Linked DNA regions of Homo sapiens: region 1 is linked to region 2. A link means that fine-mapping ties the variant in region 2 to the expression of a gene that starts in the linked region. Tissue or cell type: whole blood. Region 2 holds a variant in brackets; the other region holds the start of a gene. All regions are shown on one strand. Distances are from middle to middle.

Region 1 (8,178 bases), 26 kb after region 2:
TGTGCCTGGATTTCAACGGAAGGCGGGTATAAGGAGCCTGTCCCACCCCCACTTCCCATCACGGTCTGAACTAGTCTCTAAGGTTTACTTTGGAAAGCTCGTGGCTAACGGGGTTGGCGGGGGACTAGAATTTTATTTTTGTTTTACAGTCTCAAAGGAATCGCGATAGGTGCAGGGGCCACTGCAGTGGGACTAGGCTCAACTCTGAGTGTAAGAAGAAAAACGGGAATGTACAGCCACGGAGAGGGTGAGAACGGACGGAAAACTATGAAGAGGCTACATCAGGCCAGGGGGGTTCTTGCTAGAACCACTTGGTAGGATTCGTGCCACAGGCAGGCCAGGTGATAAGATACCGAGGGTGAGGGATGAGGAGTATGATATCAGGGGCGGGGAACTGTCACTGCATTGACCCAGCAGGATTCTTTTGGACGAAAGGGGACAGGGGTCCAGGTCAGAGCCTTGAGGGCTTCGAGGACCCTGCCTGGAGTTAGGTCAGGTAGAGTCTTTGCCACATTGAGGCTGAGAAGCTGAGCAGCTGATCTGCGGGAGTCCAGAGACCCTCATGCTTCCTGCAGATGTGCTGTCAGCAGATCCTGAACTTGGGTTCCAGTGTTTTAAAGTGTTGTTTGCAAGCACCGCGGTCCTGCTCTCCCACTCACAGAACTACTATTGCTCACTGGTGAAGGACACTGGATTTAAAATCACAGACGTTCTTTTTCGCCTCTCGCTCATTATACATCCCTTTGAGGACACCGTCATTTTGCTGTTTAGGAGGAAGAAACAGGCAGAAGAGAACTCCTCCCATCCCTCCGCTAATGGCTTTTAAAACAGTCTTTTTTGTAATGGAACAACCAAACCTCACAATGAGCGTATATTGCTTGTGTGACCAGAAAGTAAGACAGTCCCCTGACACCTCAATTAAGTCATTTTGGTTGTCTACTCCAGACACCTCATGGCATCGTACTTCAAAATTCAGCTTTGTCATTTAGCAGTGTGTGGAGGTGCACACATTGCTAACCTCAGGCTCACTGAACACTGTTTTTTTTCTATGACGTGGATAATGGTGCCTGCGTCAGACACCTGTGATGTTTGAAAGAACCAGTTTATCAAAGTGCTTAGCCTGACGCCTGACACGCTGTGCACCCAAGATAAATGTTTGTTGTGTCATTCGATCTGTCGAGGAAGGAGGTGAGACACTTGTGGGTGGCAGGGCGGGAGGGGAGTACACAGGCTGTAAACAGCAGTGCCCAAGCTGAGACGGAGCAAGCTGGGAATCCGCCCGGGTTTCATTCAGTGTTCCACACCCCGCATGGATACTGGTTATACCTGTGATCAGTTATGCCTGTGATGGTTTTTTAGAAAACAAAACTATTTTATCACTCTGCTTTAAAGATGGCCGAGTGGAAAGACACAGTCCTGGAATGTTTAAATTCAAGCTGAAGAGCTTACTAGCCACGTGACTGAGCAAGTTATGGTTCCATCTTTCTAAGCCTCACTTCATTCTTTGTTAAGACAGGCCTCAGCATGCTGTTAGTAGGAATCTAAGGAACCCAGTGCTGATGGAGAAAGGGGTCCAGTCCAGACCCTAAGAGAGAGTTCTCGGATCTTGCGCAGGGAGGAACTCAAGGCAGTCGCAGAGTGCAGTGAGAGACAGCTGCTCTGATACAGAGTGGGGAGCCCGCGGAAAGCAGGAAGAAGAATGTGCCATCTTTGTTTCAAAGGCATCTTGTATCAATGTAAAAGCCAAGCTACGTGTAAGTGCAGGTGGGCTGGCAGTGTGACAAGATCTAGTACTTGGTGGATGTAAATAACGTTATCCTTGGCATTTCAGTGCGTAACTACATCTAAGCATGACTATAGCCATCTTTTTTTTTTTTTTTTTTTTTTTTTGAGATGGAGTCTTGCTCTGTTGCCCAGGCTGGAGTGCAGTGGCATGATCTCGGCTCACTGCAACCTCCGCCTCCCAGGTTCAGGCAATTCTCCTGCCTCAGCCTCCCACGTAGCTGGGATTACAGGCTACTGTAACTGCCAATCAGGTTCATGTTGCCTACACAGAGCTGATTTATCCAAACAGGTGAACTGCATAGAGAAAGAATAATCCACACAGAGCTGGCTGTGCGGGAGACCAGAGTTTTATTATTACTCAAATCAATTTCCCCAAGAATTCGGAGTTCAGAGTTTTTGCTGTTGTTTTTGAGATGGAGTCTTGCTCTGTTGCCCAGGCTGGAGTGCAGTGGTGCGATTTCAGCACACTGCAACCTCCGCCTTCAGGGTTCAAGCAATTCTCCTGCCTCAGGCTCCCAAGTAGTTGGCATTACAGGCGTGCACCACCACGCCTGGCTAATTTTTGTATTTTTAGTAGAGACGGGGTTTTGCCATGTTGGCCAGGCTGGTCTTGAACTTCTGACCTCAAGTGATCCGCCTGCCTCGGCCTCCCAGAGTCCTGGGATTACAGGTGTGAGCCACCGTGCCCAGCCCTGGAGTTCAGAGTTTTTAAGGATAATTTGGTAGGTAGGGGGCCAGTAAGCTGGGAGCACTGAGGGGTCAGATCAGAGATGAAATCGTATGGATCAAAGCTGTCCTCTTGGCCTGAGCCGGTTGCTGAGTGCGGGCCACAAGATCAGATGAGCCAGTTTATCCATCTGGATGGTCCCAGCTAATTCAGCAAGTGCAAGGTCTGCAAAATATCTCAAGCACTGTTGTTAGGTTTTTCAATAGTGATGTTATCCCCAGGAGCAATTTAGGGAGGGTCAGAATCTTGTAATCTCCAGCTGCATGAATTCTAAACCATAATTTCTAATCTTGTGGCTAATTTGTTAGTCCTACAAAGGCAGTCTAGTCTCCAGACAAGAAAAGGATTTGTTTCGGGAAACCATAAACTAAGTTTCTTCCAAAGTTAGTTTGGCCTACACCCAGGAATGAACAAGGACAGTTTGGAGGTTAAAAGTAGGATGGAGTTGGTTAGGTCAGATCTCTCACTGTCTCAGTTATAATTTTGCAATGGTGGTTTCACTGGTTTTAAGATGGAGTTTATTTTATTTTATTTTTATTTTTTTGAGACAGAGTTTCATTCTTGTTGCCCAGGCTAGAGTGCCATGGCGTGATCTCAGCTCACTGCAACCTCTGCCTCCTGGGTTCAAGCAATTCTGCTTCAGCCTCCTGAGTAGCTGAGATTACAGGTGCCCACCACCACACCCGGCTAATTTTTTTCTCCCAAACTGCTGGGATTACAGGCTTGAGCCACCGCGCCCGCCAAGATGGGTTGTTGATTTTAAAACGATGTCACCCTGGCTCTCCTAGGTTCCTGTTCCCCTAACATCATGAAGGCTGCTGGCAGTTCTCTGGCCTCCAGGGAGGCCTCCACACACATTTACCCATGTTCTTAGACAATCCTAGGGACTCAAGGCTTCAACAAACCTAAATGAGCCAGCAGAAAAATAAACTTGAACATGAATGTCAACGTTTTCCCACATGTACTAAAGGGTTATAATAATTTTGAAATGTTTATTTCAAAGAGCGTTGGTAATTTAAACGTCCTATTTAATCCCCAAAACAGTCCTGAGGGGGAGATAAGGCAGTTATCTTCATAGTACAGGAAAGGAAAAAAGCGAGGGTCCAAGGCCGACTATACCCTCAGCTCCATTAGCCCCCGAGGCCTCCCTGACAGGCGGGGCGGACAATCCCAGTGCAGATGCTCTGTATCGATCGCATGCTATCGGTTCTTTCAAGGAACGTGTATTGATCATCAATTAAGTGGTGAGTACTCCTCTAGATGTCGATTCTAAAGAGGGAACAAAACACATTAGACAGAAGAAACATAAGTAACTCGAATAACAACCTTAGAGAGAAGAAACATAAGTAACTCGAATAACAACCTTAGCAAACTGCGGAAACTCCTACAGACAAAAACTCAGGTGTGGGCGCAGAAGGGCCGGGGATGCGCTCGGTCAAGACTTGAAGGTCCGGGGCTTGGGCCCTGTGTCCTCACCGAGCCCCGGGGAGGCTCCGGCTCCGTCCACACCCGGAGCGCGACTCAGCCGCGGCCGGGGCTCTTCTGGAGAACGGCGCGGTCAGGCTCTGCCGCAGCTTTCAGGTCCCCTCGGCCCCGTCCGGGTGCAGCGCAACCAGGCTGCCCGCGGAGCCCCACCGCCCCCATGCCGCCGCCCGCCATGGTTCAGCCCGGCCCCGCCCCTCCCGCCGGCCGTGGTTCAGCGCGTCCACCCCGCCGCCCCACAGCGCCCGCCGCGCCGCGCCCCGCCCCCCGCCGCGCCCCGCCCCCCGCCGCGCCCCGCCCCCCGCCGCGCCCCGCCCCCCGCCGCGCCCCGCCCCCCGCCGCGCCCCGCCCCCCGCCGCGCCCCGCCCCCCGCCGCGCCCCGCCCCCCGCCGCGCCCCGCCCCCCGCCGCGCCCCGCCCCCCGCCGCGCCCCGCCCCCCGCCGCGCCCCGCCCCCCGCCGCGCCCCGCCCCCCGCGCCGCGCCCCGCCCCCCGCCGCGCCCCTCCCGCGCCCGCCGCCCCGCCCCTCCCGCGCCCGCCGCCGTCGTAGCGCCTAGGCGGGGCCTCTCGTAGCGACGCCCCCAGGGGGGCAGAACGCGTGCGCACGCGCGTGCGAACGCGCGTGCGCGGGCGGTGTTTGAGGCCGGCCAGTCGTGACTGGGCGGCAATGAGGTCAGTGACTGCCGGGAGTCCTGCAGGGGCGGGGCGGCGCCAAGCGCAGGGAGCCCGGCTGAGTGGCAGCCCAGGTGAGCGCTCAGGGAGCCCGGGTGAGGGCCGGGAACCCAGGTGAGGGGCAGCCCAGGTGAGCGCGCGGGGTGCCCGGGTTAGGGGCCGGGAACCCAGGTGAGGGGCAGCCCAGGTGAGCGCGCGTGGAGCCCAGGCGAGGGGGCTGGGAAGCCCGGGTGAGGGGACCGGGGATCCCAGGTGAGGGGCCGGGAACTCAGCTGAGGGGGAACCCAGATGGGCGCGCGGGAGCCCACGTGAGGGGGAGCCCGGGTGAGGGGCCGGGGTGGCTCCTGGCGTCCGCGGTCCCAGCCCTGCCTTCCGGTGGGCGTGCGGCACCCCGGGCCGTGCGGTTCCCGGACAGCAGCTTGTGGGGGACTTTCGAGCCCCGCAGCCCGGGGTCCTGCCTGCGCGGGTTGGGCGTGGGGGGCTCCTCACCGCGACGCTGACTTTGGAGTCCTTGAGCGGCGCGGATGCCGGACGGAGGGAGGGGACAGGCGGAGGCGGAGGCGGCGCCGTCGCCCCTGACCTCGCTTCCCTCAGACCGGCTGGGCAAGTACGGTCAGCTCACCTGTGTGCCCACGAGGCGGGGAGGCGGCTCCTGCAGAGCCACAGAGGTGCCGTCGGAGCTGCTGTCAAGGACAGCAGGTGTCACGTGGGTGTGGCCTCCACTGGTCACCGAGTTAGCTGGGGCGGAAGGGGACAAGGTGCAGCTCAACATGGTGTGGGAGGCGGAGGGACGCTGGGTCAGTCAGAACCTGTAGGAGCGGGGAGGGACGCTGGGTAAGGTCACCAAAGTGTGCGGGGGAGAGAGCGGGCGCTGGGTCAGGTCAGCAGGAGGTGGGACCCGCCTGGGCTCTGGGCCCTATAGCCAGCTGCTCTAGGTTGGGGTTGGGTGTGGACAGTAGGGAGGGGAGCCAGGGGCTCCCCAGCCTGTGTAGATTCTGCTGTAAGTGACTCTTCTCTGAAAGACTGGCGCGAGGCGGCTGCTTCTGACTCCTGTTTCAGTTTACCCTCTGTGTGAAATCTGTAACTATCCAGCTTCTGCTTACCTCACTCCCGTATTTTGATTTTTATTTACATACAACTTTTCAGGAAGGTTGTGAGAGGAAAGAGCAATGGTGCAGGAAGTGTGAGTGATTGAGGGAATATGAGATGGCCACAGCTCCCCACTGAGCTTGAACACTTCTGTGCCTCACTTTCAGATTGGCCGTCATGGAGGCTGTGGTTGTTAAGGAAGTTCTTCCTGAGCATCCAGTTTCCATACAAAGAGCACAGGTTCTCTAGGTGGCCTCAGAGATGTTCAATACACAATGTCTTCTGATAACGAGGAACTGGGCAAAAGCCTGGTAGGACACCGGGTAGGTAAATGGTGGAGTCCCTGCAACCGTGTTGCAGAGGAGGATTAGCTGTTGCTGAGAGAAGAGAAGCAGGCCGGGGAGCAGCTTGTATACTGTTATCCCCTTTTATGTAAAAAGAAGAGTTTATATCTAGAAAAACAATTGACCCAGCAGGCACCAAAAAATAGTGATGGTGCTTGGAGCTGTGTAAGAGGATTGTAAATTTTTATTTTTGTATTTTTATGCTTGTTTATATTTTCTGAATTTTGTGTATTAAACATGTATTTCTGTTGATTTTGGAAAACATTTTTACAACCCATCAATGTATAATTTTCAAAATGTTAGAAGTATAATTCTCATGTAAATAGCTCTTGTCAGGTTATATTTCAGTCATTAATGCAGTATACAGCAGGATAGGAATGTCAGTTCAAAAGAGAATACACAAAACTAGGATTTTCTTAGTGAGTGGGTAACAGGAATGCTGAGAGAAGATTGCCAGATTAGATAATAAGATTGGTGAATATCCTGTGTGCATTGAAACCACAGCCTTTGGGATTGTCTTTTCTTCTTGATGGAAAGGAGAATTAGCTTTGCAGATTGTAAAATGCGTGACCCACAATCAGTGGTAAATAGTTTAGTTATTTCTCCTAGAAAGTCAAGTGATTGTTGGGGTTGTAAAACACTGAACTTGCGTTAGCAGGGAAAAAAGCATGCAACCTTTTTTTTCCCTTTTGACGTCACTTCCAAGTTTGGATAAATTATCTCAATGAAAAACAAAAATGCTGGTATCCATAGCAGTTTAGCCCCCATAAACCGGAGGAGCGCATAGATGCATGACAGAGTCGAAGGGTTCCAGTGGCCACTGAGCCTGGTTCCTGGTCACACTGCAGCAACAGAGCTAACACTCTTACTGATGTGTTTGCATTCAGATTTTTAAAAAACTTCATGGCCCAGTGCAATAGAAGAGCTGAAACCACAGAATCTTATAAGACAAGCTTTTTGTATACATTTTCTCCAAAGAAAATGAAGATCTGCAGCGTCAAGAGATGGTGGCCTTCCAGGAGTTGTTTATTCTCCGGCTCCACTTCCTCTACTGCAGAGAGGAAAGGGGCTGGTGTGGAAGGGCTTGGAAGCCTTCCAGAATGAAAGAACCAGATGAGTCCATTAGGTTCGGCCTCCAGTTTTTTGTTTTTTTTTTTTTTTTTGAGACGGAGCCTCACTCTGTCACCCAGGCTGGAGTGCAGTGGCGCTATCTCAGCTCACTGCACGTTCCGCCTTCCAGGTTCCCGCCATTCTCCTGCCTCAGCCTCCCGAGTAGCTGGGACTACAGGCGCTCGCCATCACGCCTGGCTATTTTTTTTTTGTATTTTAGTAGAGACAAGGTTTCACCATGTTAGCCAGGATGGTCTCGATCTCCTGACCTCGTGATCCTCCCACCTTGGGCTCCCAAAGTGCTGGGATTACAGGTGTGAGCCACCCTGCCCGGCCGATTCGGCCTCCAGTTTTACCCATGGAAGGAACAGTGACTTCCAGCTGTGCATTACACTTAAGGACTCCTTCATGTGGCCTGAGCCTTATGGTGCACAGCAAGGGAACAGTGGGAACCCCTGTGTCCCATTTTGCGTATCAAGAGTGAGAGGGTGTGGTTGGGTCAAGGAGCAGAAATAGAAGCAAAAGGAGAAGCTGAGCTCTTCCCATACCCCTTCTGTGCTGCCTGACAGAACAAGGCCTAGCCACACTTCTGTGGGTGCCCACCTTGTGACTTGGGGTGAACCACAGCTGTTCTCAGTACAACGCTGATGCCACGAAAGGACAGCAGAGCTCTGCAGGACTCCAGGAAGACTGGGCGCTTGGGCTGGATCCTGCCTCTGGGACTGGCCTTCTACCCTCATGGCTGAGAGAGCTGAGGAGTTCACCTCCTTTGTGAACTCCTGGCTGGAGGATGCTGGTTGGCATTAACTAAACTCAGAGACCCACAGTAACGAGTTAGACTAGAACAGCACCAGCTTACCCAGAAAGTCAGGAGGTTTGAGCAAAGAATCAGAATGGGGGATTCACTACAGGACTGGAAGGGGAAGTAAGCATTCTGGTCTTTATAATCTGCTGTTTCTGCATCCCTAATT
Region 2 (8,178 bases):
TACTTCACCATTTCTAATACCTAATTCAGTGGTGTGAAATTGTATCTGTTAGCACTGTAAAACTCTTTTCCCTTTTCTAATTGTTTTATCAGCAGGGGACGTAAAAGCTCATTAAAGCAATTTCCATGTGGAAAAAATTTAAAATTAAATTATCAGCCCTGAACTTACATTGAACTACAAGGTCACGGATTTTCTTTCACTTTACTTACAAGCTAATAAGTTGCCTTTTGCTATTTCATTGACGCTGCTAGAAGTCGGGAGACGCGTCGATCAGAGACCAGGGTTTTATTCCTCACTGCGCAGAAGACAGCACGGGCAGGAGTCTGTGGTTCCCTTGGCCCCACATCCCACAGGGCCGCGTGGAACAGCTCAGCTCGGTGCCGGGTGCACGCTGGCTCTGTGTCCCGGCCGAGGCACACGGACGCTGGGACCCTGTTCTATAGCAGACAGTCGATGCCTGCTCCTTGTCCGCGGGGGACACATTTCCTCCTCCCTCGAGGATGGCTCCCTGCACGCACAGCCCTGAGAGATGGTCCGGGAAAGAGCAATCCAGCCACAGTGCTCTGGACACGCCTGAGGAAGACACTTACACGTGGGAAGGACCCTGGGACTGTCTTTCCCAACAGCTATGGGCTTCGTGAGGAGAATAGGGAATTAGGGCAGCCCCGGGCTGGGGCTTTAGCAAATAACAGCAGGTGCAGTCAGTTCCAGGCAGGATCCGGCGGTACACAGGCCACAGCCTCTCTCCTGTGATAAGAAGACAGAAACCTCCACTTCAGCCTCTGATTGACCACGGCCTTCTCCACTTCAGCATCTGATTGGTCACAGGTCCATCCTTCATAGGGAATAACCAACTGGAGGCCGCTAAAGGGCACCTAGGGGTATTGCCAAGTTCTTTTGGCTTTATAAAAATCCTAATTGGGCCAGGCGCGGTGGCTCACACCTGTAATCCCAGCACAAGGTGGGTGGGTCGCTTGAGTCCAAGAGTTCGAGACCAGCCTGGCCAACATGGTGAAACCCCATCTCTGCTAAAAATACAGAAATAAGCCAGGCGTGGTGACAGGTGCCTGTAATCCCAGCTACTCAAGAGGCTGAGGCACAAGAATCACTTGAACCCCGGAGGCAGAGGTTGCAGTGAGCTGAGATCGCACCACTGCACTCCAGCCTGGGCAACAGAGTGAGACCCTGTCTCAAAAAAACAAAACAACAACAACAAAAAACCTAATTAGAGAGGCTCTTGAGTCGCTTGCTCAAGCCCATCCCACTTTGTGAATTGTGCTTTTGCTTCTTCAATAGATCTGTGCCTTGGTTACTCCCTCTGTTCTTCTGTTGTTTTGTTCTTTTGTTACTTTGTGCATTTTGTTCAGTTCTTCGTTCAACACGCCAAGAAACTGGACAACTCTATCCAGTAACATTCTGTTCTGAAGCCACAAAGATAATAAGATGCCTGTACTGAGAAGTCCAGGTGGCATTTTCTTACCCCCATCTTGACACTGCCGTTTTCTGTTTCGAACCCCAGTCCACCCCACAGCTCCAAACCACCCTCCCTGCCTCCACCTACAGCTGGCACCTGCTGCCGCGTCGTCGTGGGGCTGCCGCTGTGATCTGAGCCCGGGAGCAGGAAGGTCAGGCCTTGGTGCACCGGCTGGCCAGTCCAGACAGGAGTGCCTGCCTCACTCCAGGACTATGGACAGCACCTGTGATTTGCAGGTCCTTTCTTAAATTAACACCCACAGTCTAATTCCCAATGAACCTTGGACCTTCTCTAGCTCCCTGAATTCTCCAGGCCTAGCCTTGCAAAGTGATTGTGTGTGCTCACTAAGGACGTGTGACCTGTAATTTGTTTTTTAAAAAAAGAAAAGGGGACCGGGCGCAGTGGCTCATGCCTGTAATCCCAGCACTTTGCGAGGCCAAGGTGGGTGGATCACTTGAGGTCAGGAGTTCAAGACCAGCCTGGTCAACATGGTGAAACCCTGTCTCTACTAGAAATACAAAAATTAGCCAGGTATGGTGACAGGTGCCTGTAATCCCAGCTTCTCAGGAGGCTGAGGCATGAGAATCGCTTGAACCTGGGAGGCGGAGGTTGCAGTGAGCCAAGACTGCACCACTGCACTCCAGCCTGGGCGACAGAGCAAGACTCCATCTCAAAAAATAATAAATTTAAAAAAAAATTTTTAAAGGGAAAAGTAGAAATATTTTAAACGTTTAGCTCTAATAACAGCCTATTTTAACTGTATCAAAGAAGAAGGCGATTTCATAAGGCATTCCAGAAAAAACAAAATTCTAGCAGCGTTTGGGCTCCTAAACCGATCCAGCCATTTCCCTATGAAATGCCCTCAGGCCATCTCCATTTGAAACATGACGAATTGAGGCTTCCAGAGGTGAGATGGGAAACTGGCTTTTGAGTTTAACAATTCTCTGCACATATTCAGTTCTAGAGCACCAACCAGCTTTCACCATAATAACCATGAAGAGATTGTACAGGAATTCCTTATTTGAATTAAGTAATTGACACCAAGCAAACGTTTTACAGATTTATGCATTACGAAGGAGCTATGAAGGGCTAACAGACTTTGTAAAGTAAAACATATTTTATATTTGCTGCCTAAGGATATGTTTGGCTTCGGGGAAATGAAATTAGATTCACTAGATGAGATTCGAAGTGTAAAGCTCTGCAGTGTTCAGGGTCTCCCACAAGAGGGCAGTGTGCTAGCATTTGGAAGCAGCGGAGCCTCTTCCTGGACTCAGCTTGAATTGGAATTGACAACTAAGAAAACTATGATTAAACCCTGATTCTTAAGTTTATCTCACATAAAGCCAGTGTTCAAGGATGTTGAATAAACAACGATTAGTAAAACAACATTGTATTTCAAAATATGAGCAGTCCAATAAAAGCTATCGCAGAGCTAGTTGCCCTACTCAACAGGAAGTAGTATCTCCCATAACTAGCAATTCTCCTCTGAACTAATGAGCTATCACCCAGAAAGTAAACTGCATGTTAGATTAACAAGAAAATGTATAGGATACATTGAGTAGGAAGTGGCTGAGATATTTTAATTTTAATCCTTCATCAAAATCAGCCAATAACTGTTGTCTCTTCTAAGCTATTCCTTGCATGAAAAATCCTTACCAGCTGCCACTGGACTCTGGACAGAGGTCTCTGCCCCCACATGGGCCTCCCTTCTCCTGTTCCAGGTGGTAGAGAAGTTTCACAGCATCTCTCAGGAGAAGGCTGAGCACCCAGCGGTGTAGACCACAAGGATAAATCAGATGTGATGTCGTCCACATAGGGCTGGGGAGTTTTCCACAGAAGCTTCTACATTATATAATGTACAGACTTAATCTTGTTTTAACTCATTAACCGTTTTAATTCTTTTGAGGCCAGGCATGGTGGCTTATGCCTGTAATCCCAGCACTTTGAGAGGCCGAGGCAGGCGAATGGCTTGAGCTCAGGCGTTCAAGACCAGACGAGACAATGGTGAAAACCCATCTCTACAAAAAAAAAGACAAAAATTATCCAGACGTGGTGGCATGTGTCTGTAGTCCCAGCTACTCTGGAGGCTGAGGTGGGAGGATGGCTTGAGCCCAGGAGGTAGAGGTTGCAGTGAGCCAAGGTCACACCAGCGCACTGCAGCCTGGGCGACAGAGCCAGACCGTGTCTCAAAAAAAAAAGTATTGAGTGCACTTGTGTGTTTCCCCTTCTTAGTCATTCTGCACACCAGGGAACCAAGAGAGGAAGGAAAGAGAGAGACCAACAGAGAGACAAAGACAAAGACAGAGAGACAAGGACGGGAGAAAGGGAGGGAGATGGGGAGGAAGAAAGCCAATTTCATTAGGTGTCGTGCACAACATCAGAAAACTTTAACACCTATTTCCTATTTAACCCTAACACATGCTTGGTCTCAAGATAGATTAGCAAGAACCATTCCCCACCTTAATGTGGCTGGTGTATTCGTCTGTCTTGCGTTGCTATAAGGAACACCTGAGGCTGGATAGTATATGAAGAAACAGGTATATGTGGCTCATGGTTCTGCGGGTTGTTCCAGCATCTGCTTCTGGGGAGGCCTCAGGAAGATTTTTCTCCTGGCGGAAGGTGAAGGGGGAGCAGGTGTGTCAGGTGGCAAGAGAGGGAGCAAGAGAGAGAAGGAGGTGCCAGGCTCTTTTTTTTTTGAGACAGAGTCTGGCTGTGTCGCCCAGGCTGGAGTGCAGTGGCGCGATCTCAGCTCACTGCAAGCTCCGCCTCCCGGGTTCACGCCATTCTCCTGCCTCAGCCTCC[T/C]GAGTAGCTGGGACTACAGGCGCCCGCCACCGCGCCCGGCTAATTTTCTGTATTTTTTAGTAGAGACGGGGTTTCACCGTGTTAGCCAGGATGGTCCTGATCTCCTGACCTTGTGATCCACCCGCCTCGGCCCCCAAAGTGCTGGGATTACAGGCGTGAGCCACCGCGCCCGGCCAAGAGGCGCCAGGCTCTTTAAACAGCCAGATTTCCAGTGAACTCACTGGAGACAGCAGGAAGGCACCAAGCCATTCAGGAAGGATCCGCCCCCACAACACAGTCACCTCCCACCAGGCCCACCTCCAACACCGGGCGTCACATTTCCACAGGAGATTTGGAGGGGACACACATCCAACTATATCAATTGGCTTGTTCTTGAAAAAAAAAAATCACTTGTAAGGAATTGTGCTGGGCTCAAATACAATGACCCCTCCTCCCCTGTGGGAGCCTTGCTGTCTCCCAGAGCTCCTGCTACCCCCACAGACTCCCTCCTCTGCCCCCAGTGCCCTATCCCCATGAAAATCCCCTTTACTTGAAAACCAAGCCTGCCTGGCTCACCCCTCTCACCTGGGACTCCGACAGCCAAACATTGTTGTGGTTGTGAATGCTGGGATGAGAAAGCTGGAATGTTTAGCTTTGGGCTCACATTTCTCTACCCAGGTTGAGCTGGGCAATAGGAAATAACCTCTAATTTAGAATTCTAAACACGAAACATATTCACTATCTGATATAGTAGTAAGTTTAGGGGAGGAAAAACCCCTGAAACTCAGCCCCCAAACAGCACAAACCCTGACTGGAGTGAGATTTTTTGTCCCCACCCACATGCCTGCCATGAGTAACAGAAATTGCTTCCTGAAGATAATACATCCAGATCCTCAAATCATTTCTACAACCTTTAATAGGCAACAGCAACATTCAACCAAAACTTACCTGACAGAGATAAGACAAGAAAGAAATTACCGACAGCCAAGAAAAACAGGCAATAGGAAGAGATCGCGGGAATTTCAGGGGCTGGAGTTATGAGATGCGTCCTCTAAAAAACATGGGGTTACTCCATCCAAGTACTGAAGTGAGCCGATGGAGAATTTCACCAGAAAAGTGAAAATTATAATAATAAAAGAATCAAGTAGAAGTTTTAGAAATGTGAAATGTGATACGGAAAATAAGAACTCTAACGTGGACTGTAGGCAGCAAAGGAGGGGACGGGAAAAGTGGGCGAGTCCTCCGAAGCATTTGCACAGCCAGGACAGGTGGAGAACGGAGGAGGGAAATGGGCAGGGGGCACAAGAGACCAGGGCGCTCAGGACGGGGGAGCAGGTCCTCTGTGCACACACAGCCCCAGAAGAGAAGAGAGAATGGGGCAAAAGAATCATAAAGGAGGTGAGAACCAATGATTATTTTTATTTATTTATTTATTTTATTTATTTATTTATTTTTGAGACAGAGTCTCAATCTGTCACCCGGGCTGGAGTGCAGTGGCGCGATGTTGGCTCACTGCAACCTCTGCCTCTGGGGTTCAAGTGATTCTCCCACCTCGGCCTCTTGAGGAGCTGGGACTATAGGCGCCCACCACCATGCCCAGCTAATTTTTGTATTTTTAGTAGAGATAGGTTTTCACTGTGTTGGCCATGCCAGTCTTGAACTCCTGACCTTAGGTGATCCACCTGCCTCGGCCTCCCAGAGTGATGGGATTACAGGAGTGAGCCACCATGCCCGGCCCAATGATTTTTTTTTTTTTTCTGAGACGGAGTCTTGCTCTGTCACCCAGGCTGGAGTGCAGTGGTGCAATCTCAGCTCACTGCAACATCCACCTCCTGAGTTCAAGCAATTCTCCTGCCTCAGCCTCCCGAGTAGCTGGGATTACAGGCACCCGCCACCACACCCAGCTATTTTTTCTATTTTTAGTAGAGACCGGGTTTCACCATGTTGGCCAGGCTGGTCTCGAACTCCTGACCTTGTGATCTGCCCACCTCAGCCTCCCAAACTGCTGGGATTACAGGATGGTTTTTAATAACCAATCAAAGTCAAGTTAAACTCCAGCAGAAACAGATGAGTTTCCTGATGGTTGTGCACAGGCTTCGGACCCAAGGCAAGGTCTTCCTGTCTCGAGGCCTTCTGCCATCATCCTGCCTCCCCAGACATACCCCAGTGATATCGTTTGGATGTTTGACACCCCCAAAACCTCAGGCTGACATTGGATCGCCAGTGTTGGTGCCGGCCTAGTGGGAGGTGTCTGGTCACTGGTGTGGTGGGAGGCGTCTGGGTCACTGGTGTGATGGGAGGTGTCTGGGTCACTGGTGTGGTGGGAGGTGTCTGGTCATTGTGGTAGGAGGTGTCTGGTCACCGGTGTGGTGGGAGGTGTCTGGTCACCGGTGTGGTGGGAGGTGTGTGGTCACTGGTGTGGTGGGAGGTGTGTGGTCACTGGTGTGGTGGGAGGTGTCTGGTCATTGTTGTGGTGGGAGGTGTCTGGTCACTGGTGTGGCCCCTACATAAATGTCTTGGTGCCATCCTCACTCTATTTGTCTCATTTCATTAGCTCTCGCGAGATCTGATTGTTAAAAAGAGCCTGGCAGCTCCTTTCCTCTCTCTCTGTCCCTCTTTATGGCTTTTTTCCTCTTGGCATGTGATGCCTGCTCCGCTTCCCATTCCGCCATGACGCCACGAGCAGAATGATTTCTCACATTTTTTTTTTTTTTTTGAGACGGAGTCTAGTTCTGTCACCCAAGCTGGAGTGCAGTGGTGTGATCTTGGATCACTGCAACCTCTGCCTTCTGGGTTCAAGCGATTCTCCTGCCTCAGCCTCCCGAGTAGCTGGGATTACATGTGCCTGCCATTACGCCCAGCTAATTTTTGTATTTTTAATAGAGGCGGGGTTTCACCAATGTTGGGAAGGCTGGTCTCGATCTCCTGACCTCAGGTGATCCGCCCCCCTCAACCTCCCAAAGTGCTAGGATTACAGGCATGAGCCACTGCGCCCGGCCAATTTCTAATATTTCGGAGGCCTCACCAGTCGCAGATGCTGGCACCATGCTCCCTGTGAAGGCTGCAGAGAGGTGAGCCAAACACACCTCTTTTCTTTATAAATTACTCAGCTTCAGGTAGTCCTTGATAGCAAAACAAATGGACTAAGACACTCATCCTAACTCAGACCCCAGCTTCCCCATGAAGCTGTCAGCAAGACAGCAGCTATGCTCCCCTCCTCCCTCCAGAGTCTGATGGCCTCAGTCCCAGCACGTAGTTCAACCTCCAACTTGACTCTGCCTACCTCATGCAAATGAGCCTATCTCTTTATTCTTCAGGATCCAAAATGGCAACTCCCTGAAGCCAGAGAACCCATCAGAACTTAAAAGTAGACAATTTTTTTAGAGCAGTTTTTGGCTCACAGTAAAATGCACAGAAGGTACAGACACCTGCCATTCGCTGCCTGTCCCCTCTCCCCTGCACGCATAGCCACCCCCCACCAGCAAGTGTGGTGCATTTGTTACCATTGGTGAACCCACATGGACACGTCTTCATTGCCTGGAGTCCGTGGTTTACACGAGGGCTCGCTCTAGGTGTTGTTCATCCTCTGGGTCTGCACAGATGTACACTGACTCTTATCCACCATGACAGTGCCATGCAGAGTAGCTTCACTGCCCTGAAGATCCTCTGTGCAGTGTAACTTCATCACCGTTAGGAAGAAAACAATCTCTTTTAACATCACGTGTGAATAAGACAGATGATGTCCCAGCCCACCATGGGGCTTCCCATTCTTGTGAGGTGGGAAGGGCAGGACAGAAAATAAACAGTCCACAAAGAGATAAAAATAATTATCATGTCATTTTTATGACATGATAGATCATTCTATCATGAATGTTTAAGATCATTCAATGAGTGAAATGCAAGGACATGAGCGAGTAAGAGAG

The links. PIP is the estimated chance that this variant, and not a neighbour inherited with it, causes the effect.
Region 1: CLN8 starts here. The variant in region 2 is fine-mapped to the expression of CLN8 in whole blood (INTERVAL, PIP 0.98).

Annotation. Positions count from the first base shown.
Region 1 is chr8:1,759,148-1,767,325 of GRCh38, forward strand. It overlaps CLN8 (CLN8 transmembrane ER and ERGIC protein), which reads left to right and starts at 4,642. Exons shown (of 3, transcript NM_018941.4): 1 at 4,642-4,738. CLN8-AS1 (CLN8 antisense RNA 1) reads right to left here and starts at 5,437. Exons shown (of 2, transcript NR_134303.1): 1 at 5,287-5,437; 2 at 2,816-3,781.
Region 2 is chr8:1,732,930-1,741,107 of GRCh38, forward strand. No RefSeq gene overlaps it. Among named protein-coding and RNA genes, the nearest start is that of CLN8, 27 kb to the right of the region's middle. The variant T/C (reference allele first, on the strand shown) is at 4,277.